Regions from separate parts of the Homo sapiens genome. Here all the other regions are linked to region 2. Evidence: fine-mapped expression QTL. A gene starts in region 2. Each other region holds a variant in brackets. All regions are shown on one strand. Distances are from middle to middle.

Region 1 (4,000 bases), 270 kb before region 2:
TCTGACGTCAGAACCACAAATAGCATTAAAGCTCCGGAACTGGAAGGTGATGACAAGGGTTCAGGATAGCCAGAGCTTTTGTCCACTCCAGGGTTCCTGCTGAGGGAGCTTCAAACGAGAGCAATGACCAAATGGAGAGACAAATACATTTATGAAGGCCAGTGATGACCCAACAATCCACACCTCAGCCACTAGTGGTCCTGGGGCCTTGTGGGACATACTCATTTTCAGCTTAAAAAATGGATTGACAGTCTTGGCCGAGAAATGGGGTCTCTGCAAGGAAACAAAAGCCACCAATAGTGTTTGGAGCTGAGCCTTAGTTGGAACTAGAAGTCTCTTTCCCCCACAGTCGAGAGTGTGATGCTCAAAAGAAGGATGGCCAAATAAAGACTGAAGGGAGCAAGGATCAGCTTAGTCTGTGCCTGTGCAAGCATTGGGTGGATACAACCTTTCATCCCAGATCCATCTGTCATGTGCAGCCTCAGACACACACATGCATGCACGTGCACACACCTGCTCTAGGAAGTGTTGCTGGGACAGAACACCTAGGCGGGTAAGTTTTCAGGAGACTTCCTGCTCTCCCCCTCCCACATCTATAATGCTGGGTCTGTGAAGCCAGTTTCAGGACCCCTCCTCACCCAGTAGACTCTTGCAGGTCCTCCTGTCCTTGTGGTTGCTGCCCTGCCCTTCTTCTCAGTCACATGTGGAGCCCAGGGTGAGGTCTCTGACACCCAGGCTGTTCTCTGCAGTGATCTGGCCCATTAGGACTGTCAAACCCTGGGACTGGCTGACTGACTGTGGAGCCTTCATCCCTTGGGAGGAACAGGTGAGGGCAAGGGAGTGTGATCCACTTAGCCTGATCTCCCTACGGGCAGTGGTAGAGGGGAGTTTTGCAGACTTTGTTGAGATTTTCAAGAAGGGACAAGGAGGTGGGGCAAAAGGTTGGAATCTCTTATTATATCAAAGGTGAGAACTTTGAATCCTAAAACACAACCAGGAAATGCTTTGGATGAACGTGAAAGGCAGTGTTCACTTTTATATGCAGACTATATGACAAACATTAGTTTGTAAGGCACCTAGTTGTTATTGGGGAAAGACTTTCATATAGAAACATGTTATATGTGGCATTTAGGTTTCTAGGTTAGCACAAAAAAGTTTTAGCCCATTATGTAGCTGGAATATATTTACACTGTTGAAACAATATTGCTGTGAAAGAAACATAAAATTGAATTAGAACTCCCATTTCTTTTGTATGGGTGTCCTTTGGGAGAAGCGGGTTTAATTAGAGGCTGATGAAGCAGATGAGGGAGAATTCGTGAAGTTCCTTTAGGGAGTAGTTATCTTTAGTGATCCATTGTGTGCTGGGGAGCTGAGGGGCTCAGGTGGTGTTATTAACCTCACATTGCTAGGGAGGAAGTGGAGGCACAGGCGGCTCAAGTAGCTTGACCAAGGTCACACAGCTAGGGACTCAGAGCTACATCTGCTCAACCGTCCTGTTTTCACTGTCCTATTTTATCTCCAGGTAAAAA[G/C]GGGTGTGTCGAGCTTCTTTGTGGCACTTATTTTCTGTTTCATCTACAGATAGCTCAGTTGGTATCTTTTAACTAGAACTGTTTTTAAAAATAAATCATAAAACCATTATATACCAAAAATATGACAACTTAATATCAATCACACTTTTCTAATTGTCTTACTACTTATTCTTTTACTGTTTGTTGGTATCCAAACAGTAACTCCACTCATTGCAGTAGGTTGCTATGCCTCTTAAGTCTCTTTTAATCTGTAGCTTCCCCTTCCAGTCTCTCTTTTCTATATACTTGCAGTTTGTTTGTTGAGGAACCTGGGTTGTTTGTCCTGTAGATTTTCCCCCAATCTAAAGTTTACTTATTGCATTCCCATGATGCATCTAACATGTTTCCCTGCCTTCTGTGTTTGCTAGAAACCGTAGTTTGATTTAGAGGTTTGATTGGATTATACTAAGTTTTGTAGGGTGGAGGTTGTCTCTTTTCTGTGATGCTAACAGAAAATCGGAGTATGCGAAGTTTTGTAGGATGTTTGGTTGTCTCTTTTCTGTGATGCTAACTCTTATTAACGATCATTGCTTATATCCATTAGTCATTAGAGGTTGTAAAATGGTGATATGCTATCATTTTGTCTTCATGTATTCATTGGAATGCCTCAAGAAACTTTTTTCAAGAGTTGACTCCCTAGCATTCTCCTAAGGTGACAGGAGTTCTTTGCCTGTTAATTTGCTTAGTATCATTATGAATCGTTATGGGTTTATGTGTATTTGATGTGTTGATGCATTGCAGTTATTAAACCTATTTGTGCTTAGACTGCCCAGTTTTGACTGAAGGGAGCTTATTCAAGTTGGTGAGGCACTTTTCTTGAAGAAACAGTTCTAGCTAAGTTGAGTGTGTCCTTATTCGAAACTCATTGTTTGTAGATGGGGACTCCACTGACCACCCTGGGGGTGGAGGCACATCCTGGTGTCCACCTAGCCCTCTCTAGTCATGCCAAGGCCCCAAACATCATGGAGCTTTTGAAAGGAGGCATTTCACAAGGCCCCCTTGCAGCTCCTTTGCTATAATTTTTGTGGCTGCAAAAGGGTAACCTGGTGTGAAGGAAAGGTGCTCACTGACTCCAGCTTGAATTCCAGCTCTGCCCTGTACAAACTTTGTGACTTTGGAGAAGCTGCATGATTTCTCCTTGCACGGTAGGGATAATGCATCTCTAAAAGGATTGGTACAACCTAGAGGTACAGTCCCTGTAAACCCGCTAGGTTCTCAAGTACGTGTGTGTGTATTTTCTGCCTTATACTAAGGCGCTACTCTAGGTTTGGAGTGATAAAAAAAATGAATATGATGGCCGGGCATGGTGGCTCATGCCTGTAAACCCAGCACTTTGGGAGGCTGAGGCGGGTGGATCACGAGGTCAGGAGTTCGAGACTATCCTGACCAACATGGTGAAACCCCATCTCTCCTAAAAATACAAAAATTAGCTGGGCGTGGTGGCTTGCACCTGTAATCCCAGTTACTCAGGAGGCTGAGACAGGAGGATTACTTGAATCTGGGAGGCAGCCTGGGTGACAGAGTGGAGACTCCATCTCAAAAAACAGAATATGACATAGTTCCACGTTTCGGGAGCTTCCATTGTTTGTGCCCTATATTGTCGTCTTCTGTGGGAAGGCAATGTGTTGACTGAGTGCCGGCTGGCTGGCAGGAGTTACGGATTGGGAATTGGGTTCTTCCAGGTGAGACACTCCTACTGGGAGAGCATGAAGAACTGTGAGCCTGAGGGGTAAGTCAGCTGAAGACTGTAAGGAAAAGCCAAGGAGCAGACAACTGTACGGCCACAGGCAGGGGCCAGAGGCAGAATTAAGGTCAGGCTTTCTAAGCCTGGAGCTCAAAGCTGCCAGACATAAATAGGATCCAAGAGAACTGATTAAGAAGGACTCTAAAGTCTGGTGGAGTTGATGGCTGAGAATACTCTTGGGTGTTATGGTTCAGAGACTGCCAGATAAGGCTTGCTTTGGGTTGAAGCTCTAAAGCAGCATTACCCAATAGAAATAAAATGTGACCCAGATGTAACCTGCACATGTAATTGTAAAATTTTTTATGAATCACATTTTTAAAAGTCAAAATAAGCAGGTAAATTAATTTTAGTACATGTTCACTTAACCAGTATATTAAAAATATTATTTTGACATGTACTCAATATAAAATTTGTTAATGAGATAGTTTACATTCTTTCTTTTTTTATTTTATTATTATTATACTTTAAGTTTTAGGGTACATGTGCACAATGTGCAGGTTAGTTACATACGTATACATGTGCCATGCTGGTGTGCTGCACCCATTAACTCGTCATTTAGCATTAGGTATATCTCCTAATGCTATCCCTCCCCCCTCCCCCCACCCATTCTTTCTTTTTTTTTGGAACTAAGTTCTTAAAGTCTGGAATGTATTTTACAATTACACTGCATCTCAGTAGGGACTACCCA
Region 2 (4,000 bases):
ACATGCTTGCTAAATGAATAAATGAAGGCATGAAATCAACTCTGGATTTCTCAAACTTGATGCTGACATTTTGGGCTAGAGAATTTTTTTTTTTCGCACCACACGCCCAACTAATTTTTGTATTTTTAGTAGAGACAGGTTTTCACCACGTTGGCGAGACTGGTCTTGAATTCCTGACCTCAAGTGATTCGCCCGCCTCGGCCTCCCAAAGTGCTGGGATTACAGGAGTAAGCCACCGCGCCCAGCCCAGATAATTCTTTGTTGTTGAGAACTGTCCTGTGCATTACAGGACATTGAGCAGCATCCCTGGTCTATACACATTAGATGCCAATAGAACTGCCCCTCTGCAAGGCATGACAATCAAAAATGTCTCCAGACATTGCCAAATGTCTCCTGCGGGGCAAAAATCACCCCAGTTGAGAACCACTGCTTAAACGAGAAGCCTGGATACAAAGTTATTGCATAAATTAGGGACAATCATAGGTTCCGATAATGTACAAATTCACAGCAGTTATACAACTCAATTAGATTTATATGAAGAAATATATAAATTTAAAACATGCATAAATGTTTTCCAAAAAAAAAACCACCACCACAAAGCATTGATTTTGTATTTATTCTGTCTTCCTTCTAGAAGAGATTGTGGTGAGAAATTTGAAAACTATATAAACTGCTTCTCCTCCAATGAAAACTTGCCAGGAATGGGAGACCTGGTTAAGCAAATAACATGATTAACCAAAGAACCAGGTTAAAACAGAATTATCCAAAATGTCGTATATACCATATATGGCTATTCAATAATCCACAATCTCAAGGATTTAGGATTAATCTGAAATAAGAAATTTTTAAAAACAGACAATACCGTCAACTGCAAAGACATGCGGAAGTTAAAATTGAGAAGACTGCCTACTCTCAACAATCCAATTTCTTACTTTTAACAATCTAAACAAATACTTCTTATGAGAAATAAAATGCAATTCACAAATTCTGTTCTTGTCAGGCCTCTGAGCCCAAGCTAAGCCATCGCATCCCCGGTGACTTGCACATATACGCCCAGATGGCCTGAAATAACTGAAGAATCACAAAAGAAGTGAAAATGCCCTGCCCCGCCTTAACTGATGACATTCCACCACAAAAGTGAAAATGGCCGGTCCTCGCCTTAAGTGATGACATTACCTTGTAAAAGTCCTTTTCCTGGCTCATCCTGGCTCAAAAAGCTCCCCTGAGCACCTTGCCCCACTCCTGCCCGCCAGAGAACAACTCCCCTTTGACTGTAATTTTCCTTTACCTACCCAAATCCTATAAAACGGCCCCACCCCTATCTCCCTTCGCTGACTCTCTTTTCGGACTCAGCCCGCCTGCACCCAGGTGATTAAAAGCTTTTATTGCTCACACAAAGCCTGTTTGGTGGTCTCTTCACACGGACGCGCATGAAAGTTCTTGTGTGGCATACGAAATAAATTTGGGACCTCAAAATTTCCAAGACTGCAAAAATTATTTTATTCACATTTCAAATGTAAATTTCATTACACACGGTCTATTCAATTATTCGGGCCCATGAAGAAAGTGTGACTATGAAACCAAAAACAGCAGTTAATTAGAAAATCATGTTCTTGACCTTGAAGCAGATTACTTTTTAAAAATAATTATATCCTTTTTCGGTTGTTGGATAAGTAAATTAATTTTATATTCCCTGACCAAGTATCAGTAGACGCCAGGAAGAGACACCAATTCAAATAAACCAAAAGTGGAAAGCTGCGGTCACAACTCGTTCGTTTCTAGCTAAATCGTATACTTTTTAAGTGGAAATGAAGATAGTTTCGGTAGCCAGAAGCCCTAAGTTGTCACAGGTCCCAATAGGACTGCTGACCAGCTGAGCGTCCCTGAGCCAGGATCTCACGATTCAGCTAGCCGTGGGACGGGGCCGGGGGTCTGCAGCTCCAGGGTGCGCCTGGGGTCCCGCCGGGTCTGAGGAGCTCCGGCTCCCGCGCCCTCCGCCCCCACCGTCGTGAGAACAGCGCGTGGCACGAGCTCAGCAGCCAGCCCCGCCTCCGCCCGGGTCCCCGCGGTCGGAACCCAGGAAGGCCGAACCGGAACGAAGCCGCCCCTCCAGCAAGCTCGACGGACGCAGAGCAGACCCACCCGGGGTTTACCTCGGCCAGTCCCTGCGGTTCTCGGCCTCCCCCGATCAGCCATCGCAACATCCGGGCAGCGGCGGCGTCTTGCCCGGTCCAGCCCCAGTCAGCCCAAACTCCGCCCCAGGCTCGGCCTCCTCCTTCCTCCCCGGCTGCAGCGCAACTGAGACGCTAATACTTCCCGCCCCAGATCAGCCCACGGGCCGAAGGAATGCAGACCACAGTTGAGGGAGAATTTTTGTCCCCAAAGCGCTCCCGTACCCAGCCACGGAGGCTTAGTTTGGGCAGTCGCTTGGGGTGCGGCGGCCGACGGCGGGGGCGGCTGCGGCGATTGCGGGGCGCGCGCTGCTCCGAGTGAGCACGCGCGGGAGCGCCGCCGGGTAGCGCACGGAGCTTAGGTAGCTCGAGCGGCCCCTGGTGGACGCGCGCGGAGCAGCAACCCGACCCCGGCGAGCAAGCGCGCACGAAGAATAATGCCCCTCCCTGTGACATGGCTTTAGTATCCTCCACTTCCTAGGGTACCAGGAAATCTCCCCTGCTTTCCCAAGAGCTTGCTGAAGAAGGTGTACCGCAGTAGACTTCTGCATCCAGACAAATCCAGTGGCTCATGTGTACAGCCGAATAAATCCGGCCAACATTTACTGTGTGCTATAGTACAGCTACTGTGCTAAGGCTTTACATAAATCCTCATGGTAAACCTATATCCTCTATTTTACACATCAAGAAACTAAAGCTCTGAATGATTAGGTAATTTGTCTAAAGATAACAGCTAGGAAGTGGCTACATTGGTAGTGTTCTTGACCGTATGCTATATTAACATAGAATCTCCCTAAAGAATAGAAGGCAGTTCATATACCTTTTTTTGACTACTACATTTTCTTAGGTAGTCAAAGGGCTGTGGTTATCTATGCTGACTGCATATCAGAATTACCTGGGTAGCTTTTGAAAATGTAGATTCCTGGCTTCCACCTCAGACTCATTAAAATAATCTTTGTGGTTGGGACGTAGGAATCGGGGTTTTGGGAAGGCTCCTCAGGTGATTCTGATGAGTAGCAAGGTCTGAAAATCACTGGTCTAGGAACTACTTATACATATCATGTTTGCAAAAGTATAAATATATATATTTGCATATGTATTAGGTTCAAATAATCCTCCTAGCAGTAAATTGTTGTAGGGAATCTACAAATGTCCCAACTAATGCATTAATTCAGCAAACATGTATTGGACACAGATGCACTAGAGAAGCAGAAAGGAATCACATAAAATGCTGCTCTGGAGGGACAAGGCATAATGTCCCAGTCACCAATAAGAGAGAGCCATACATCCCACTTTAAGCTAAGTTGGTTGTGAGCAGCTACACAAACTTACAGTCCCTCTGGAACTCGGATCTCCTATAATTCATCTTTGTATTCCTTTTGAGTGCACTCGGCAAGAACACACTCCCAAGGATCAGGAGCATGTTGCCTTCTGTGTGCTAGCCCCAAATTGCAGTCTGCATACAGTTGAAGACAGACCAAAACAGAGACTATCCCCTGGGAAAGAGGGACTTATCTTTAAGTAAAACAAAACTCAGAGACATCAGGAGTTCAGTTCTGGAAGGAATATCTTCACGTGAGACAATGTGGTTGCCCAAATAGCCTACATTTTATTCTTCTGATTATCCACATTCTTTAGGGTTTGCCCCATGCTCTTTAGGGTTTGCCCAATGCCACATTACTCTGATGTAAGGGACATTCTGCTGATGCTTTAAAGCACTGGTCCAGGGTTGAACACTTCCTCCCTTGGTTCCTCTTAGGACAGCTAAGAAAGAATTTTTTACAAGATTAGTATATTATTGGGCACACAATGTATAAAGATGTAATTTG
Region 3 (4,000 bases), 38 kb after region 2:
GAAGAAATAATGTCAATCTTACATAACACTTCCAGAAAATAGGAAAATGAAGACTATCATTCAACTTCTTCTGTGAGCCTAAAATAAGCTTAATAGCAAAGCCTGACAAGAACATTTTGAAAAAGAAAAATTACTAGCCAACCTCATTCATGTACATAATTTAGAAATGCCAAACATAAAATATTAGCAAGTAAAATTCAACAACACATGGAAAGAATAACATAATATGAGCAAGGCATGTTTACTACAGAAATGCAAGGCTGTACTAACACACTAAAACCAATCCATAAAATTCAGAGCATTAACACAATAAAAGAGAAAAATCATATTATCATTTTGATAGAGAAAAATTACCTGACAAAATTCGATATCTCATCATTATTTTTTTAAAAAAGAACTTTCAGCAAACTACAATTAGAAGTGAACTTGCTTAATCTGATAAAGATTATTTATTTAAAAACCTATAGCATTATACTTAATGAAATATTGATAGCTTTCCCTCAAAATGTAGAATGAGATAAGAATGCCCACTGTCATTTCTTCTATCAACTTTGTACTGAACTTTGTACTGTACCAGTACAATAAGGCAAGAAAAAAATTAAAATGTATAAGAATTGGAAAGAAAGAGATAAAACTGTCATATTCATAGCTGACATGTATAATGGCATACATATAAAATACAAAATAATCTACAGAAAAAATATTAGATATCAAAAGCAATTTTAGTAAAGTTGCTGACTACAAAGTCAATAAACAAAATCAATTTATTTCTATATACCAACAACAAATAAACAAATAGACACTTTAAGATGCCATTTATAAAGAACATCAAAAAAAGCAAACAAGAATAAATCTAAAAACTTGTAAACCTCTACACAGAGAAACGCTAAACTATTACTGATAAAAAAAACTTTAAAGGTTTAAATAAATGGAGAGATACACCACGTTCATGGATTCAGAGGCTCAAAATTATAAAGATGTCAATTCTCCCCCAAACTGATACAGAGAAACAATAAAACCACAATCAAAACCCCAAATTTTCTTAAAACTTTACGAGTTGATTATAATATTTTAATGAAAATGCAAAGTGCCAAGATTAGCCAAGACAATCTTGGAAAAGAACAACAAAGTGAGAAGACTTGCTTTATCATATATCAAAATTTATTATAAACCTACAGAATTAAGTCAATGTGGTATTGGTATGAAGACAGACCAACAGATCAATGAGAGAAAATGGAGAGTTAAGAAGCAAATCCAGGCATAAATGAATACATGGTTTATGAAAAATAGCAGCTCATAGAATGGTGGGGAAATAGTGATCTTTAAAAGATAAATGGTTCTGGAAAAATTGTATATTCATATGGAAAAAATAAATTTTTGCTGCTTCTTTATACGATGTACCAAAATTAGTTTCAAGTGATTTGTAGACCTAAGCACAAAAAACAAAACAAATAAATATTTTAGTTGGCAGCATGGGATAATATTAGTTTGGAAAACACTAACCATAGAAATGACTGATACATCTTACATATGTGTCATAAAGGCTTCT[C/A]TCAAGATACAGAAAGGAATAAAGCAATAAGAAAAAGCCAGTCACATACAAAATGAGAGAGAAAGAAAGATGCTCAACATCATTAGTCATCAATGCAAAATTAAAACCACGATAAGAGACCATGACATGTCCACCAGAATGGCGAATATTAAAAAGACCACCAACCTCAAATATTGGCAAGAATGTAGAGCAAACAAAACTCTCATTCATTTTTGCTAGGAAAATGGTACCCCTATCCTATTACCCAACAATTCTACTACTAAGTGTTTACCCAGGAGAAATGAAAACATATATCCAGAAAAAGACTTGGACAAGAATGTTGATTGCATCTTTATTAATAAGAGCCCTGGACTGGAAATAACCCAGGTGTCCAACAATAGAAGAATAGACAAACATCTTTATAAAATGAATTACCACTTATCACTAAGAAAAATCAAACTACTGATATAATCAACAGTATGGATGAACTAAAAAAATTATACTGGGTGAAATAAGCCTTACACAAAAAAGAATATACTGAACAAGTCTATTTATATGAAGTTCTAGAATAGGCAAAACTAATCTATAGTGGAAAAAAACTTCCTCTACTCTTGGGAGTTTGGGAAAATTCATGGAGGAATATCCTTGCATAGTGATAATGTTTTATCTTGATATAGGTTTGGGATATATGGTCATATGTAGCTGTCAAAACCTAGAAAATGAACAATTAAGATTTATGCATTTCATTATATGTAAAATTTACATTAAAAAATTAACTGTAAACAAATATTGAATTCTATTTAATGATATGTATGCTGAAAAATTTAGAAGAAAGTGATTGAAGAACTCTGTTTTGAAATGTATCAAAAAGGTAAGATGGATTGATGAATGGGTAGAAATATAATAAAACAAGCACAGTTAAATGTTAATGGTACAAGAACTGGTGCTGAGACAACTGGATACTCACATGCAAAAAAAATGAACTTGCACCCTTACCTCGCTTGTTATACAAAAATTAACTCAAAATGTATCAATCACCTAAATATAAGAACTAAAACTATAAAACTCTTAGGAAAAAACAGGGGTAAATCTTCATGACCTCAGATTTAGCAATGGATTTCTAGATATAAAACCAAAAGTACAAATAACAGCAACACAAATAGGTAAATTGGGCTTCATCAAAATTTAAAACTTTTGTGCATCAAAAGGCATTAAAAAGAAAGTAAAAAGACAACATACAGAATGGGAAATAACATTTACAAATTGTATATCTGAAAAGGGTCTCACATCCAGAATATAGAAAGAGCTCTTACAACTCAACAACAAAATGACAAACAACCCAATTTAAAAATGGGCAAAGGACTTGAATAAACGTTTTTCCAAGGAAAATATATAAATGGCCAACAAGCACATGAAAAGATGCTCAACATCATTAGTGAAACACAAATCAAAACCACAATAAGATATCACTTTGCGCCCACTAAGATGGCTATAACCAAGAAAGACAGACAATAACAAGTGTTGGTGAGGATGTGAAGAAATAGGAACCCTTGTACATTGGTAGTGGGAATGTTCAGCTGCTGTGGAAAACAGTTGGTGGTTCCTTAGAAAGTTAAACATAGAATTACCATATGCCCCCACAATTCATTTGTACTCAAAAAAAGTAAAAACAGGTACTCATACGAATATTTGTACATAGCAGCATTATTCAAAATAGCCTAAATGTGGTCTATACATGGTCATAGCAGCATTATTCACAATAGCTCAAATGTATTGTTCAGTCATAAAAAGGAATTAAATACTGATACATGCAACAAGGTGGATGAATCTTGAAAACATTATGCTAAGTAAAAGAAGCCAGACACAAAAGGTCGCATATTATATGACTCCATTCATATAAAATATCCAAAAGAGGTTAATCCATAAAAACAGAAAGGAGATCAGTAGTTGCCAGGGACTAGGGGGAGGGAAGAATGGGATTAACTGCATAATAGTTATAGAGTTTTATTTTGAGATGATGAAAACATTTTAGAACTAGATAGAGATAGTGGTTGTACAATATTGTGAATGACTACTTGTGAATGTCACTTTATTGTTCACTTTAAAATGATTACTTTTACATTATGTAAATTTCAACTCAATTTTAAAAATTTAAAAATGGAACAAGGGAGAGGATTTAGAAGGTTCTAAATGCTAAAAGAAGTTAATGATAGAATTCAGGTAGTGCGTATACAGGTGTTCACTGAAATCTTTCAATTTTGCTGTATGTTTGAAATTTTTTATGATGAAAGTTCAGGGGGAAAAATGGACAATAACAAGTATAGTGCAACTTAAAATAGCAGGAACTCTCAAATGCTGCTAGTGGAGATGGAAATTAATACAACCACTTTGGAAACCTGTTAGTCATTATTCACTGAAGTTGAATATCTTGATATTTTACAATCCAGCAATCCTTCTTGTAGGTATATATCC
Region 4 (4,000 bases), 75 kb after region 2:
GTATTTCAAACTATCTTTTCTTCTATCAAAGTAGAAACTTAGAAGGAATTTTTGAGTATTTTCCCCTTTTAAATCCCCTATAGTCAATTTATCACCAATTTCTTTTCTCTCTTTAATGTGTCATTCAAATTTAAATAGTCCTTTCTACTCCCATTGCCATGATTGTACTACAGGGCCTCATGACCTCAAGCCTGGAATGAGGCAGTGGGCTCCCAGCTCAGTACTTCTCATATCCTAGATGCAGAGCACAATAACCTGAGGGAATTTTGCAAAACCACAGATTCTCAGGCTGCCCCAGGCTTACTGAATCAGAAGACTTGGGGGATAAAGCTCTCCAGTTGATTCTCACACACAACTAGACTTGGAACCATGATTTCAATTGATTTCATGTCTACAGTCTTTCCACTTTCAACACATACAGTGCATTTAAATACCAATTTTATCATGGTGCATTTCTAATGGTGTCCTACTGCCAGGCACGTTAAGCTGAATGCCCTTTGCCAATTCCTAAAAGTCTCCATAACCTAGCCCCACCTTACTTTTTCAGATCTAATTTTTAGTCTGACAAGGACAGTCTTCTAATCTTATTCTCGTGTCAATTCCTCCATTCATTTTCCCTGAGCTGGGAGCCCCCTGAATCATTCCAACTTGAGGTCATGAGGCCCTGGACTGCAATCATGGCAATGAGAGTAGAAAGGACTATTTAGATTTGAATGACATATTAAAGAGAAAGAAATTGGTGATAGATTGACTATAAGGGATTTAAAAGGGAAAAGACTCAAAGATTCCTTCCCCATCTACCCACCAATATAAACCTCCTCCTTCCTTCAAAGATGAGCCCCATCTGACCTTCTTACCTAGTGTCCTCTAGCCATACTCTTCCCTCTACATTTTTTCCTTCTCTGCCTCCTATTGTGATTTAAGTCAGTACCATGCTGTTTTATACTTCTCCTACTACATTTTTATAAATCTTCTCTCCATAGACAGAGTGTAAATGTCATGAAAAGAAGAACCAAAAATTTGTTTTCATGTTTCTCCTGATAACATCTGAAGGTGTATTGTAGGTATTCAACACATTATTGTAATTAATTAAAACCCATTGACTTCTTACTGCATAGCAGATATATATATTGACTCATTTAATTCTCATAACAACCCTATGAGGATTTTAAAATAAAACTCCTTGTTTAGACAAGGAAATAAACATAGAGAGGTGAAATAATTTACCTCTCTATGGTCAAGACTGCTCTGGTTTGAATTTCAGTTCTTCCTCTTGTGAGCTTAATACCATTCATAAGAGGAAGCATTGAAATTCAAACCTGGGCAGTCTTTCCAAAGCTTATTGTCTTAGCTAACACACCATGGAATCATAGAACATGAGCAGCAGAAAGGGCTTATGAGGCCATCTAACTCATCTGCCTAGAACTAAGCTATTTTACTATTTACTAATCTTTATGTGTTTGTTTAGTTAAAGGCAACTGTTCTCTACTCACTGTCCTGTATGTCGTTTAGGTCTCCCTGGGTCTCTATTTATATTGATACTACATAACCTTTTAGATAACTCTTAATTTATGCATATTTGTTGCAGCGATGAGTACCTAAACCATTCTAGGACAAAAAAAGATGCAAATAAAAATTCCCCCTTACCCAAACTGTCCATTCTGAAGGCTATTAAAGCAAGCCAAGACACATATTTCATTAGAGAGTTTCCTTTTCAATATTTCTGGGCCTTTGCTGCCATTTTTTAAAGAAAGGGATTTATTTATTCAGTGAGTTTGAGGGTGTGGTGCATACATATGCACGCTTGTGTGGTGGGGG[G/A]CAGAGGGATTAAAAGAATATGCTTTTGAAAGTAGAGTGGACATCAAAATTTGTTTATGTCAGGATAATAAGTGACTTGTTTTTTATGTTGCCCACTTCTTCGGACACACAGACCTGCTATGCCTCAGGGTGCGTGAATTGACTGCAATCAAAGTCTGTGCACATGTCTGGGCCTGGGGGTCTGGTTTTCCTAACAGTCAGCATGATCTGAGGGGCACCAGAAGTCACTAGAGTTAAATGGCACTCCATGTGATGGAATGAGACACTTCTATCAGTTCATGTTAATGGGAAAAAATATGTTCCAACATTCATAGGAGAGCCAATATGGTAGTACATGAACCAACTTTCTTGTCTTGAACTACACACTGAAAATTTGAGCCCTATTAAAATGCTAAAAACAAATGAGGTAGAGCGACAGAGTCCATTGCTCTATTTACACTGATATCGGCTTCCACATACTTATTAGAGGTTCTACTAGAACAGGTAATAAGTAGCTCTAGATTTTTCATGCTTTGCAGTTTTGGAATAGCATGAATAATTGAAATCCACAGATAATACAAAAATTTAATTTTAGTCAAGGTATTAAGCCATCTCTTCCTCAATGGAGCTTTTATTATATTAGCTAACAAACAGAATAAGTGACTGGCTTGCATTTCAGCATTTAGTTTTTTCTATACATCTCCTAGCATTCTTGGGTAGGTGTCATTAAGCCACCAGAGAAAAAGATTTGCACTCTTGGCTTGTTCACTGTGATCAACTACTGCCTGTACATTTGCAAGAAGGCTGGCTGATGCTGAGGTTGAAAAAAGAGCACCACTTCCATCCTCACAGAGTTACTTGACCCATGTACATACCAACATTACAGGGTTAGTGCAAACCCCTCATTCTCAAGCAGTAGTACAAACACTGCATCAACAGAACTATTTTTAATTAGTAATAAATGTTATCTCTACAAACTAAGTACTGAAGTAAACACAATACAATTACCCTAAACCAAATAGTAAAAAAAAAAAAAAAAAAAAATTAAAACATGGAACCAATGCTATTCTGAATCACCTAAGAAACCTGTTTAAAATGAACATTCCCCAAATCTTTCTCTAGAGAGTCTGACTTAATAGGTTTGGGTCCAAGTATATGCATTTTAATAAGTAGCCCTTCTTCTTCCTTTATTCATCCTCCTACTCCTCCCGTCTCATCCCGACCCCAGCCTCATCCCACCATAGTGATTCAAGTATGAAGGGTCCATGGACCACATGTTGAAAATCAGTGCCTAGGGAATGAAAAAAAAAAAGAGTTGGATATCCCTGCCATTGGTTTCATAGCAAGAGATCTTTTTTTTTCTTGTTCCACAACCCCCAGCTGAGTTGAGTCTATATCAGCTATACTGACTTAGAGACCATGTTAAAGATCCAATACACACTTCCTCTAAAGCAAGAACTGATGAAAGTGTTTGCTTCCAGGGTATATAGAGCTTTAAGATGTAGCCTTGAGGGCTGTTTAAGGGCAGTATCAGGCTTATGGATAATGAAATGTACAAGATAGTGATACTGTCCAGCCAGAATACTATTCTGCCATGCTCTGATCCAGGCAGAGCAAACAGCTGCTGAGGCCAAACCACGACAAGGGCTATTTTTGCCTGTGACATTGGAGAATTTATTCAAGAACAGTTCCCCTTTGTGCCAGGATTTTCACTGTGCGGCTGTAAAGGTTGCTAAGTCCTTGGATCATCTGTTGTTTAAACTTTCTCAAATGTCCAAAATAACCCATTCTTCCTGAGATTATGAACCTGTATGAGAGCTCTGCTAGCTGGGAATGAAATTGCTTGTCCCTATTTCTTCTGCTCTATATACTTTGAAGAGCAGTCACTTTGCAGTAACTGTAAGTTATCTAAATAGCAACTCCTCGCACAGGTAATATGATTTGGGGGAGAAAATAATTTCCCCTAAAGGCCACATAGTTCACAAGGGTCTTTGTGATGACTAAACAATATAGTGCCCATGAAAGCATTCTGCACACTCTAAGATGCCATGGAAACACAAGAATTATTAACTAGTATGTGGTAGATAGGAGTCAAATGATAAATATCCAACCAGGAAGGTTACTGTAACACAGGAGTGAATCAACAGACTATCCTCTCCCAGAAAAGCTCTTTGTGTGTCTGGCTTCCCACACCTAATCTGGA
Region 5 (4,000 bases), 49 kb before region 2:
GTCCAGGGCATCCCAGATGATCAGCTCTCCGACGTGGGAGCCGGTGACAAAACTCAAATCTAGGCAAAGTTCACATATGCCTCATTATCGATCATTTTATCTATGTAAAGATATAACTGAATGGAATGTCTAGTAGTAATGCCGTATAAAACCACAGTAATTAGAACAGTGAGGTACCTAGGCAAGCCAACAGAAAGATTAATGTAACAGAATAAGAAGGCCAGAAATAGACTCAAATTATCTTAGTAATTTAGTATGTAATAATGATTGCATTTCATTTCAGTAAAGAAATACCTCATGCTGGAATATCTGGTTACATTTAAGGGGAATAAAAGTAAAAGAACCTTATCTTGTACCATACACCAAAATAAGTTTCAAATAGATTAAAACATGAAAGTTAGTTAAAGGATGGAAGAAGATAAAGGTGAATACTTTTAGGAATGTGGAGTGGTAAAGGGCTCTAACGGAAGCAGAGTGGGGTGCCAGGGGAAGAGATCCTAGTAAGTAGCTGCTTGGCAAAACAAAAACAAGGACCGGGCGAGGTAATCCCAGCACTTTGGGAAGCCGAGGCAGGTGGATCACCTGAGGTCAGGAGTTCGAGACCAGCCTGACCAATATGGTGAAACCCCATCTCTACTAAAAATACAAAAATTAGCCGGGCATGGTGGTGTGCACCTTAGTCCCAGCTACTTGGGAGGTTGAGACAGGAGAACTGCTTGAACCTGGGACGCAGAGGTCGCAGTGAGCTGAGATCGCGCCACTGCACTCCAGCCTGGGCAATAGAGCGAGACTCAGTCTAAAACACACACACACACACACAAATACACTGAAATGACAAAAAGCTGGGAAAAATTTGCAACTTGGATGACAAAACAGGTTTATTATACTTGATACATAAGGAGTTCTTGGAAATTATTAAGAACAAGATAAATACAGCAGAAAAAAAAATGGGAAAAGGACCTGAAAAGGCAAAACAAATACAAATGGTCAGTAAACGTGAAAAGATGTTCAACTCCTTTAATAATCAAAGAAATCTAAAAACAAGGAGATACCATTTATTGACTTGTGAATCAGGAAATATAAAACAGGAAAATACCCAACACAGTACTGGCAAAAGCATAAGAAATCAGCACATTCCTGTATTGCCTAATGCCCTACTATACATTAGTATTTTTTTCAAAGATTAATTTGCTAATATGTATCAAAACCTTGAAAAATGTAAATCTCGATCCAACAATTCCACTTCTAGGAATTTATCCTGAAGGAAATACATAAATGTACAAGGTTGTTACATACATATATGTACAAATACACAATCTTAAAAATCTGAAGATAACTACACATCGAATTGAGAATTGAATAAGACATCAACAAAATGAAATAGTAATGCTGTTATTAAAAATTAAGTTATAAAAGTATGCTTAACAATATAAACTTAGATATGGAAATATATTTATGACATATTGTTACAAAACAGTAAACCATATTAATACACATGTACACACATACATAGGCCCAGAAAATCACCTAGAAAGATGTGGACTGGTGTTTAATACTGGATAGTGGAAAGATTTTAATATTAACTTTTATATTTTTAATGTTTTTCACTATTTTCATATTTTTCTACTATGACTATGTATAACTTTTACAAGTTTTTAAAACCTTTAAAAAAAGCCGGGTGCGGTGGCTCACACCTGTAATCCCAGCACTTTGGGAGGCCGAGGCAGGTGGATCACGAGGTCTGGAGATCGAGACCATCCTGGCTAAAACGGTGAAACCCTGTCTCCACTAAAAATACAAAAAATTAGGTGGGCGTGGTGGTGGGCGCCTGTAGTCCCAGCTACTCGGGAGGCTGAGGCAGGAGAATGACGTGAACCCGGGAGGCGGAGCTTGCAGTAAGCCGAGATCGCGCCACTGCCCTCCAGCCTGGGCGACAGAGCGAGACTCTGTCTCCCCAAAAAAAAAAAAAAAAAAAGGATTTTTTTCCATTTTACATATTATTTATTTTACACACTATATATTTAATAGAAAATGTACAACTGCTAGTCTTATTTCAAATAAATGTAATTTATTTAAATTATTACATATTTAGGGTAAGACAGAAGACTATAATGCACTTAGTCTAGAAACCCAAGTTCTGATTTTGGCTCTGCCTGTTGCTAGACAGGTGGTCTTTAGGAAGTAGTTTAACCTTTATCTTGGATTC[T/C]TCATGCATTAAATGAGTGACTAAAAATCAAATTGAATAATAAACGTGTAGCCATTTTAAAAAGACATCAAATATTATCTTTGCGCCCCTGGTAGTATTTTGAGCCCCTGGTATTATTCCACATTAATCGTATTAAAACATCCTGTTACTTGTTAATTTAGGAATATACAGATGAGTAATTATGATTTAATTATTTCATTTATCAAATAAACCAGCACGACAGAAATCTCTAATGACCACATGAACAATCTCTTAAGAGATACAGAATTACCAGCAATCCTACATGTAAATATTATTTGTCTTGACTCCAAGGCCATAATAGGTAGATTATTAATATCTAATTTCTATAGTTTATTAACAGACTCTATAGAACTTGCTCTGTGGAGAAATCACTTCTCATCTGTGGAGCAAAACGGGCTTCTAGTTTTAGTAGTGGGAAAGTTAAGGCAGTACTCATCTTCCCAGGACCTTCTTTCCCACACCTTTCCCTCCTTTTTCCTATTTCATTCAAACTACAAAAGAACCAGAGAAGCTAAGGAGTGAAGATTCCCCTTGACTCTCACTCTGCATCTGTAGTCACAACACAGAATTAACCTACTGAGACCATGCAGCTGCTTGCTCTGACTTAATCCTCCAAGTGTCTGTGATACCTCCATGCAGTAGAAACAAAATATTAATGACCAGTTGGAATTTTCCCTAAAAATAAAATACGGCATTCAGCTCAATCAGCACTTTTTTTTTTTTTTTTTTTTTTTTGAAATGAAGTCTCACTCTGTCACCCAGGCTGGAGTACAGTAACACAATCTTGGCTCCCTGTAACCTCCACCTCCCAAGTTCAAGCAATTCCTGTCTCAGCCTCCTGTGTAGCTGGGACTACAGGCATGTGACACCACACCTGGCTAATTTTTGTATTTTTAGTAGTGACGGGTTTCGCCATGTTGGCCAGGCTGGTCTCAAACTCCTGACCTCAGGTGATCCACCCACCTCAAGCTCCCAAAGTGCTGGGATTACAGGCGTGAGTCACTGCACCTGGCCAATCAGCACATATTTTTAAGCAGTTTACACATGGCAAACTAATTCCCAAACAGGTCATTCAAAATGTTTCATGACAAACAACCTCAATTATATATTATTAGTGGATGGATTTTCATCCTGTGTCAAAAGCCACTTAGTATGAAAATCTCACCTGGTATCTGTCTATCCATCCCTCACAAGTACTAGTACTTCATGATTACCAAAAGATGCTGGCAACATAATACAAGAAAAGGAATAAAATAAAGGAGCACCCAGAGCCTTCTGCCTGGAGAGATTATCAGTTATTTTTTGTCTGTCTTAGAAAACCTTCTGCCTGGGCATTCCAATCTTTTTAGCAAATCTGGTATTCATTATCCACACTTGTTGGTATTCTCTCATACAATTCTAAGGTTGCCCTGGGGCCACCCCTCTGAAAACAGATTTGCCCTGTGATGTACAATCCCAAGCAACTGGCCATATCTTTCATTGGTAATGGGTGAGGAGAAAGGAGCAGAGCTCCTGCAAGTGAAGCAGGGAACTGTACAACATAAACATTTCAGGATCACTGACATCCACATCATGGCTAACGTGCCTATGTACTGCAAGATGAGACTGTCAGCAGATCATTTTCAAATTTTAACAGACTACTTGGTCATGTTTGATTCCTAAATACGCCTTTGGCTTATTTATTATCTGTAGTATAATTTTATAGTCATAGAGTTTATAAAGTAAAAAGTACTAATCCAAAAGCTAGAAGAAGACAAGAAATAACTAAGATCA
Region 6 (4,000 bases), 72 kb before region 2:
GTTTTGTTGTATCTGAGCCATTTGCTACCAGCACACTCAAAATCTTTTCAGAGCTAGGCAAATTGGTAATAGTTGTGATCACAGGCCACTTTCTGCTGTGGCAGAAATACCATACAGTGGGCAATTCAAAAGGCTTGTTTGGCCTCTTCCTGCAGCTGATGGCCCCTGGAGAATGAATTAAGCGTCTGCTGTAACTGTGGCTCAGGTTGCCCTCCAGATAACAGACAGCACAGTAAAGCGATGCTGCATGTCCGAGGCCGCCTCTCCACATCTAGGTCAGAAGGCTCAGCTGGCTAAAAACGTTCTGAAAATCTCAAATCCCCTGACCCGACCCTCCGCACAGACAAGGATGGATGTGGGTCTCCAAGATCCAGTGGGTAATGCTCAACCTTGCCTCCCCATATCCCAGGGAAGCCTCGATCAGTTGGATGAGGTGGCAGCCCTCATTGCTGCCACAGTCCATGACGTGGATCACCCGGGAAGGACCAACTCTTTCCTCTGCAATGCAGGCAGTGAGCTTGCTGTGCTCTACAATGACACTGCTGTTCTGGAGAGTCACCACACCGCCCTGGCCTTCCAGCTCACGGTCAAGGACACCAAATGCAACATTTTCAAGAATATTGACAGGTTTGTTGTGCTGGGGCTCCTGTGCTCAAGTTTGTGAAGTTTAAGTGGTTTTCCCAAATACTTAGCTTCCTCTTAGGGGAAAGGGAAAATATTAGCTGTCCCACTGTACCAGATGATAAAATAACCTTGCCCTTAACTTAATTTGACTTTTCAGACTGCCTTTATGTTTTGAAATCTCATTTGGTCTTCAGTGAGTTCATAAAAATGTTTTATACACTGCAGAACACTACATAAATATTGATTGTACTATTACTAAGTACACCAGATATTTTTACCCTCCTACGAGGACATCCTGTCTTTTGTGTAACTCGAGGAAAATGTATCCACCCCCATTTTTCCCTAGCTCAATTTCCGGCCGCTTAAAATACTCCCTCATGAGTAGGTCCCACAGAGCGGGAGCACGAAGGGTGGGGCAGGTTACCCCAGCCCCGCATTCTCTGATGAGAGTGGGTTAGATGTGAGCAGGTCCTCTTGCCTCCCAGCACCTTGCAGTCAGGCTTGTGGGTATTTCCCACACAGCACCAGCCAGGCTGGTGCACAGATGCCTGGGAAGGGGGCAGTGTACAGAGAACATGGAGCTCACTCGGGCCTCAGGAATGCTGGTCTATGTGAACCTATTGGTTTGGTCTCCAGAAAACTGGGAAAACATGGAGATGAGTTATTCCAGCTTTGGCTTCAGCTTCATCAGTATCGAGGATGGGTTTTTAAACTTTTGCAGAAAAAATTCTTTCCAGTAGCCAATTTTATTCAAGAGCCATTCTGGCTCTTGAAGTTAGAAAACGACGACAGAATTGGATGGTTAATTTGGGGCAGGGTTGTTGCTTCATTCATTACAATTTCTATCTGCTGCAGTCTAGAGAATTACTTATTAACAGGAAAGTCTTCCAATGCCATCATTGAAAGAGGCTGTGGCCATCCTGTGCAATGGGAATCCCTGTGTTTGCACAGAGTGCAGTGGGCCAGCTTATGTGGCTGCCGTGCCAGCCTGCCATTTCCTGCCACCTTACTGTTTTGATGTTCTCAAGGGAAGGGAGAGGGGAATCACCTTGTCAGATAAACGTCCACCATGTGACAGGTACCTTCTCTCTTTTTTAAAATACTCATA[A/G]ATCACATAAGGGTCAGCTATCACTGGGGAAAATGGAATAGCATCTGCAAGTCTTGCTTACTGGGAGGACGAGCTCTTCTTGTGATCTGCACACATTTCTTAACTCTGTGCCCCAGCTTCCTCCTAGGTTGTGAGGAGTGTAGTGAAATGGTGGCAGAATAGTTATAATTTGAGACACGCTGTGAACAAGCCCCTTTGTCTTGTGGTTATTTTAGGAACCATTATCGAACGCTGCGCCAGGCTATTATTGACATGGTTTTGGCAACAGAGATGACAAAACACTTTGAACATGTGAATAAGTTTGTGAACAGCATCAACAAGCCAATGGCAGCTGAGGTGAGTACTGCTTTCCATGCCATAAGGCACATCCAAGTACATTTCCATAAGAGCCTGCTCTGGCCCTGAAGCATTTTCTCTCCCACTCAAATGTAAGGTGGTTATTTACTTGGAGTTGATAAAGGGCTGAAAGGACTGGCCACTTGTTTTCCTTGGGGATGAAAATAAACTGTGTCCACAGCAACTCTGAGCTCCTTGAAAGAAAGGCCCTGAGAAAAAGCCAGTACTGACCAGAAAAGCTTGGCCCAAAGAATATGGAAGGAGACGCAGACGAACAGAGACTGGCATAAATGGTGGTATTTTAGAGAATCCAAAGCCTTTACTTCTCTGTTCACTGAGCTCTTGGAAAACCTCAAAGTTGGAAGGTGTTTTAAAAAACAAAGAATGTTCCTGATTCACATTAAAAGCATACCAGTACCTGAAGACTATCATAAAACTGGGAGTGACTGGAAAGCAGAAGCATTTATTGTGTTTTCCTTTTTTAAAACCTACTCATGTACCTTGGACCTGCCTTAAGGTCCTTACCAATTTGGCTTTTAGGAACATGAAACAGAAGGTTCACACCTAATAAGATCCACTGTTCTCTGAAGCCATGAAGCTGTTCATAACCCCATAAAGGTAGAAAAGCTTTCCGCTCATTCCTGTTGAGCGGCAGAGGTTGGCAAACTGGATGGATGTGAATGATCATCATGAGTAACTTGCTCAGTAAGGAGATGAACTGTGTAGGACCCATCCCATGACCAGTCTGGATGGAGTGACAGTGTCTACCTCACCTATTTAAGCTCCTTCCCCCAGGGATTCCACAGCACAACACCAGAGCCCTCTCCTTCCACAGAAGACTTACAGGAGCAAGGATCTGGGGATTTAGAGAAGGAAAAGTATAGAGATTCATAGAACTAGGAAGGTCATCCACTCATGTAAGCCCCCACCTCTGCACTGCAACTTACTATTAACTGCAGTATTTATAGTAAACAGTATTACTTTGATAAGTAATCAAAAACCTCCAGAACATATTCTGCCCATTGATAGTCTAATAAATAGGTCCAGTCTTAAACCCCCCAAATGTCATGCAGCCTTTTGGCTTGGCAGAGCTCTGGAGACCTAATTGTTTTTACACAATCAATTTGATGGTGTCTTTAAAAGTGGAGAATAACAATCTTTCAGGTTCTATGTAAATGGCCTGTGATGTGTGTACCAACTCGTGTCCTGGCCACATGGCTCAGGACACTGACATCACCACTAGGTGTGGACCAGTCTTTCTAAACATGGCTGAACACACCTGCTCCTGACTACTTCCTACTCCAAGGACCCCACGCCTACCTGGCTCACTTACCAGCCAGTCAGAAGAACAGCCAAGAAAACATGAGTGGACACATGCCTTAGGAGAACCAAAGTGCGAGAGAGTTGGGTGAGTTGGGGGTGGGACAGGTCATAGGAGGGAGGGAGATGGTAGGCATAAGTAGTAGAAATCAAGAAATAATTGAAGGGTTACATGTATGTGCCACTGCCCTACCTGAAATGCATTAAAGTAGCTAAAAGCTCTGCTTTTACACATTTTTTTAAAAAAACTGGGAGAAATTTCCTCTAAGATTACATATCAAATTGCTCAAAATAAAAACAAAACTGCTGTAGCAGTTACCTCTAGGGAAGAAAATGGATGTGAGGGGTAGACAGGTGGTGACAGGGACTTTCAACTTTCAAACTCTGTGTGTGTGTGTATTGCTGAGTGTCTTTTAAGACTGTATCAGTATATTCTTTTTTTAAAGAATGTGTCAGTATATTATATATGGAATTTAAAAAAGGAAAAGCTGCCTTCGCCGAGTCCCAGTCCTACCTGTGTGCTCGGTGATCACCATCGAATGCCTGGCGAATTAACCCTTGTGGGCTTCACCGTCATCTTGAACCAAGCCTGATCTGACCATCTGTTTTCCA
Region 7 (4,153 bases), 330 kb before region 2:
TTACATGTAGAGAAACTGATTTCTCAGAGGTTGCCTAACTTGCCGATGATGGTATAGCAATAAATCAGAACGAAGAGTTGAACCCTGGCTGTTTGACTCTGGTATCAGGGGTATTTTTCTCTGTACCTTCTTGCTATACCACTAGGCTGGTGTTATAAATTCAAGATAAGAAAAACAAAAGCCAGGTATTTTTCCCCTGGTAATTATTGTATAGATATATTATCAAGGCCAGAAGTTAAGTCCTGTGTTATTTCTCTCTGCTGTCAGCTAAGTATCATCTGTAATGACGGAAGGGAAAATGTTACATAGATAATAAAAAATGGTGGATAATAAAAATAATTGCTGCTTGGGCATTCATTATGCAATTTGGGGGGCAGCTAATTTATCTTCCTAATTATATTTTGCTTAAGCTGATTTTAAAATTAGTTTGTTTACCCTGAGCACGCACTGATTAACAGCAGAGAGAGGTGGCCCAGAAACATCTTGGGTGGTAGAGGGAAGATATTTTGAGATTCAGGGGAATTTCTGTGGATAATGTTCATGTAGCTATGGGAAGGTAGAAGGCTGATAGGTTGTTGGTGCTCTGAGTGTAATTAACTATTGTGATTTGTTGTTGGGAGAATTTAAATATAAGGCCCTAGATTGCAGACTCAGAGAGGGGAATGAACCCCAAGCTCCTTCTTGTTTATTCTTCAGTGCTGAGGAGAGTTCAGACTGTCAATGTAGGTAGATTGAAAAAGGAGATGGAGAAGGAGAGCTAGCTGGAGGTGACCCCAGGAATTTCCTTTCAATCGATACCCAAGGACGATTAAGTGCCTATTACGTACTGCTGTCTATTACATACTGTGAATTATGCCCAGAGCTGAGGATGCCAAGATGAATAAGGCCATTGTCTTACCCTGTGGAACTCCACAATCTAGTAAGGAACAGGCTTATAAACAGAGAGATCACAGCCCAGTAGAATCAGTGTTATCAAGAAAACAGGATCACAGTGAGAGCAGAGAAGAGAGAAGAGAGGGTGGCTATCACCATAGGGGAGGCAGGAAAGGAAGGAGCTCCACCCCTCACTCTTCCTCTGTTCACCCACTTTCTGGGTAGTTGGGGGAGGCAGGAATGGGGTGGGGAGGTAAGGGATGGGGTGTAGAAACCCCTTCAGGTTCAGTGTCAGCTGGCTGCTGGCTGTTTCAGCCAGTGGGAGGTGCTGGGACAGGCTGGAGGATGGGAGAAGAGGAAAGTCAGGGTAGCTCTCCCCTTTCTCTGCCTGGAGTGGCATCTTCAAAATCTTAAAAGCATATGGTCTCTCCCATGAGTCCATTTCCCACTAGACAGGTCCACTGGGGTCCAGCTTCAGCAGGGTGATCATGGCTTCTGAGCTCTGGTGACTTTCTTTAATCGCCCCTCCAGCCTCTGGGTGGTAACAGTTTTTTACTGGTGCTAAAAAACTGTCTCACTGTCTCCTGGTTGGTGACTCCATGTTTTCATCCTCTGGAAAATCAATCCCATGCATTAAATTCACTCTATTTAAATATAGTGGGTGGCTCTGATGGGTATGAAAGGCTTCCCAGGGTAACTCATACTTGAACTGTTTTTTAAAGAATAAAAAGATATTTGCTAGGTTGAGACACAGGAAGACTGTGTCTGAAACATACTTGGAGGTGTGAAACACCGGAGTGTGGGGACCCAGAAGGGACAGACATCCCAGCAGGTGAGAGCCACTAAAACATTAGAAAGGAAATACATTGTTCAGGTATTTTAGAAAACTCATTTGGCCAGCTCTGCTCTGTATAGATTAGCAAAGAAAACATGAGGGTGGCTGTGAAGACTAGTTAAGAGACAATCACAACGATTCAGGCTATAAGTCATGAGGCGAACTATATATGCACATAGAGGCGTGATGGATAAATGTGGATAGAGGACACACTCTAGCTATTATTCTCTTAACTATATCCAAGGAGAAAATATCTTATTTTCCTGGCATACAATAGGTGCTTAATAAATGCTTGCTGAATGAATTAGTAATATTCTACTAGCTTAATTTGTGTTATGAAACCTCAGTTCCCCACATGTCTTTCCCTTAACCAAAACTCTGACCTGTCCCATGGAGTCTGTTGCCTAAGGTCACCAGGTTTCTGCCTCCCTGTTTAGGACAGCATGGGGTCCTCCCACGGGTGCTCTGGCTTCCCAGCCCTGCTCTAGAGCATCCCTCTCTCTAGTTACTGACTGCCCCTCCTCCATCAGAGCCATTCAATCAGACGGTATTTACAGACACTTACATACTAATAGCTGGCACTGTGTGGGACACTTGCCACTCATTTATCTCGATCCTTGCAACCACCCAGTGAAGGGGCTACCTTTATCCTCATTTTAGAGACAAAGAAGACAGATAGAGGCAGATAACTTGTCCTGGGTCATGCAGCTAGTAAGTGGCAGAGCTGGAACTCATACCCAGGTGTATGACTCTCAAGCCCAGGTTCTGAGCCACTAGGCTAGATTGCCTGGTACTGGGTGCTGTATGTAGCTGGAGATATAAAGAAATGGAAGACAACGTGT[G/C]GGGAGAGAAAGTGTGAATGCACAAAGAATTAACTCTGATGCTAAAAATATGTAGTGATTCAAGTCAACAAATGAAAAGCTGCCACAAAGCAGAATGTCGACTGCCAGTATAAATAGGGATAAGGGGAAAGAGAGATCATCCTAGGCTGGGGTAATCAAGGGAGGCTTAAGGAAGTAGGTAGTATTTAACCTGTGGCTTTCCTGCTAGTTAAGGAGACATGCTGAATTCTTCTAAAACAATGCAAGAGCAACTGGGAGGTCACTAGCAGGCCAGTGCAAATTGCAGCAGGAAATTAAAGAAGGGAGAGATTTGTATAAACTGGAGAAGGACATCTGGTTGATTCTGGAGCTCTGAGTGCCTGTGGATGGAGCCTGGGTGGGTGGCCTGTGGGTGGAATACCTTCTACCAACTTTGCACAACCACCTGTAGCCGACTCTTTTCACACATGCACGTTCCTAGGTTGAAATAGGCTCCTTCCAGGACTCCAGGTTTTCCTCTGGGTGTGGCCTGTCCTCAGTCTTTCTTCTCACACATCACCTGTGATCCCGCGGCAGGGAAGACAGATCCCACTACACCTGAGAAAGAGGGACCATCTCTTCCAGTTCTTGGGGATAATAGAATGACAAGCAACACATGAGACTCAACATCAAGTGTACTTACTTGATGGTATACTCCTTAGGTAACACAGGGAAATGGCCCGGTGACTCCAGGAGGGAGTCAGGGAGCCTGAGCATGCAGGTGAGAGAATGCCTCCTTGCCCTCTGTGGTAACATCTCTATCTTTTAAGCATATCCATCATTCCTTCCCTTGTGGGGACTCCTGCCCTACTCTATGTGGTCTCAATGGGACTTGATTGACTATGTCGCCCTCTACCATAGGGGCAAGGATATATAACCCAGCTGGCCAATCAGACTACTCCATCCTCCTGGCCATAGCGATTGAGCCAAGCCTGGTGAATAGGTAGTGTGATGGTTAATACTGAGTGTCAACTTAATTGGATTGAAGGATACAAGTATTGATTCTGGGTGTGTCTGTGAGGGTGTTGCCAAAAGAGATTATAATTTGAGTCGGTGGGCTGCGGGAGGCAGATCCACCCTTAATCTGGTGGGCACAATCTAATCAGCTGCCAGCAGATATAAAGCAGGCAGAAAAAACGTGAAAAGGAGAGACAGGCCTAGTTTTCCAGCCTACATCTTTCTCCTGTGCTGGATGCTTCCTGCCTTTGAACCTTAGACTCCAAGTTCTTCAGTTTTGGGACTCGGACTGGCTCTCCCTACTCATTAGCTTACAGACAACCTACTGTGGGACCTTGTGATCATGTAAGTTAATATGTAATCAACTCCCGTTCATATATGTATTTGGGTTGGGGATTGGTGCGTTTGCATATATCATATTAGTTCTGTCCCTCTAGGAGAACCTTGATTACTACAGGTAGCCCCTGCTCTCCAGCAGTGCTAGTCTTGAGCTGCAGGAGAGCACCACTTAACAATGGCAGGGCCCCATGTGAGCCCACACTGGCTAATGTGCTGCAGTTGTTCAGGATTTAGCCTGGAGCCTGCCTAGGATATGAAGGGTTGGTCTCCTCTGGTCTTTTGAAGGGTG

Alleles and levels. Alleles are on the strand shown, and positions count from the first base shown. SD is a standard deviation of normalised expression in the study named. Not every link is listed here.
In carriers of allele T in region 5, the expression in monocytes after interferon gamma of the gene that starts at base 2,300 in region 2 tends to be lower than with C alone (large effect, 1.5 SD a copy in Fairfax 2014).

The links. PIP is the estimated chance that this variant, and not a neighbour inherited with it, causes the effect.
Region 1: its variant is the best candidate, but not a certain one, in a credible set for the expression of WDR41 in fibroblasts (GTEx, PIP 0.80).
Region 3: its variant is the best candidate, but not a certain one, in a credible set for the expression of WDR41 in monocytes (Fairfax 2014, PIP 0.63).
Region 4: its variant is the best candidate, but not a certain one, in a credible set for the expression of WDR41 in cerebellum (GTEx, PIP 0.84).
Region 5: its variant is the best candidate, but not a certain one, in a credible set for the expression of WDR41 in monocytes after interferon gamma (Fairfax 2014, PIP 0.68).
Region 6: its variant is the best candidate, but not a certain one, in a credible set for the expression of WDR41 in whole blood (INTERVAL, PIP 0.72).
Region 7: its variant is the best candidate, but not a certain one, in a credible set for the expression of WDR41 in subcutaneous fat (FUSION, PIP 0.87).

What each region holds. Positions count from the first base shown.
Region 1 is chr5:77,219,479-77,223,478 of GRCh38, forward strand. The region is part of intron 1 of PDE8B (phosphodiesterase 8B); the gene reads left to right. Among named protein-coding and RNA genes, the nearest start is that of PDE8B, 11 kb to the left of the region's middle. The variant G/C (reference allele first, on the strand shown) is at 1,530.
Region 2 is chr5:77,490,017-77,494,016 of GRCh38, forward strand. WDR41 (WD repeat domain 41) reads right to left here and starts at 2,300. Exons shown (of 13, transcript NM_018268.4): 1 at 2,154-2,300. The coding sequence starts at 2,204. RefSeq lists an enhancer at 1,762-2,685 and silencers at 1,806-2,025, 2,466-2,605.
Region 3 is chr5:77,528,458-77,532,457 of GRCh38, forward strand. It overlaps a transcript of WDR41 not described here. Among named protein-coding and RNA genes, the nearest start is that of WDR41, 38 kb to the left of the region's middle. The variant C/A (reference allele first, on the strand shown) is at 1,550.
Region 4 is chr5:77,564,844-77,568,843 of GRCh38, forward strand. It overlaps a transcript of WDR41 not described here. Among named protein-coding and RNA genes, the nearest start is that of OTP-AS1, 63 kb to the right of the region's middle. The variant G/A (reference allele first, on the strand shown) is at 1,819.
Region 5 is chr5:77,440,939-77,444,938 of GRCh38, forward strand. WDR41 (WD repeat domain 41) reads right to left here. Exons shown (of 13, transcript NM_018268.4): 9 at 1-59. Among named protein-coding and RNA genes, the nearest start is that of WDR41, 49 kb to the right of the region's middle. The variant T/C (reference allele first, on the strand shown) is at 2,207.
Region 6 is chr5:77,417,820-77,421,819 of GRCh38, forward strand. PDE8B (phosphodiesterase 8B) reads left to right here. Exons shown (of 22, transcript NM_003719.5): 18 at 410-627; 19 at 1,948-2,068. Among named protein-coding and RNA genes, the nearest start is that of WDR41, 72 kb to the right of the region's middle. The variant A/G (reference allele first, on the strand shown) is at 1,733.
Region 7 is chr5:77,155,687-77,159,839 of GRCh38, forward strand. It overlaps a transcript of PDE8B not described here. Among named protein-coding and RNA genes, the nearest start is that of PDE8B, 53 kb to the right of the region's middle. The variant G/C (reference allele first, on the strand shown) is at 2,551.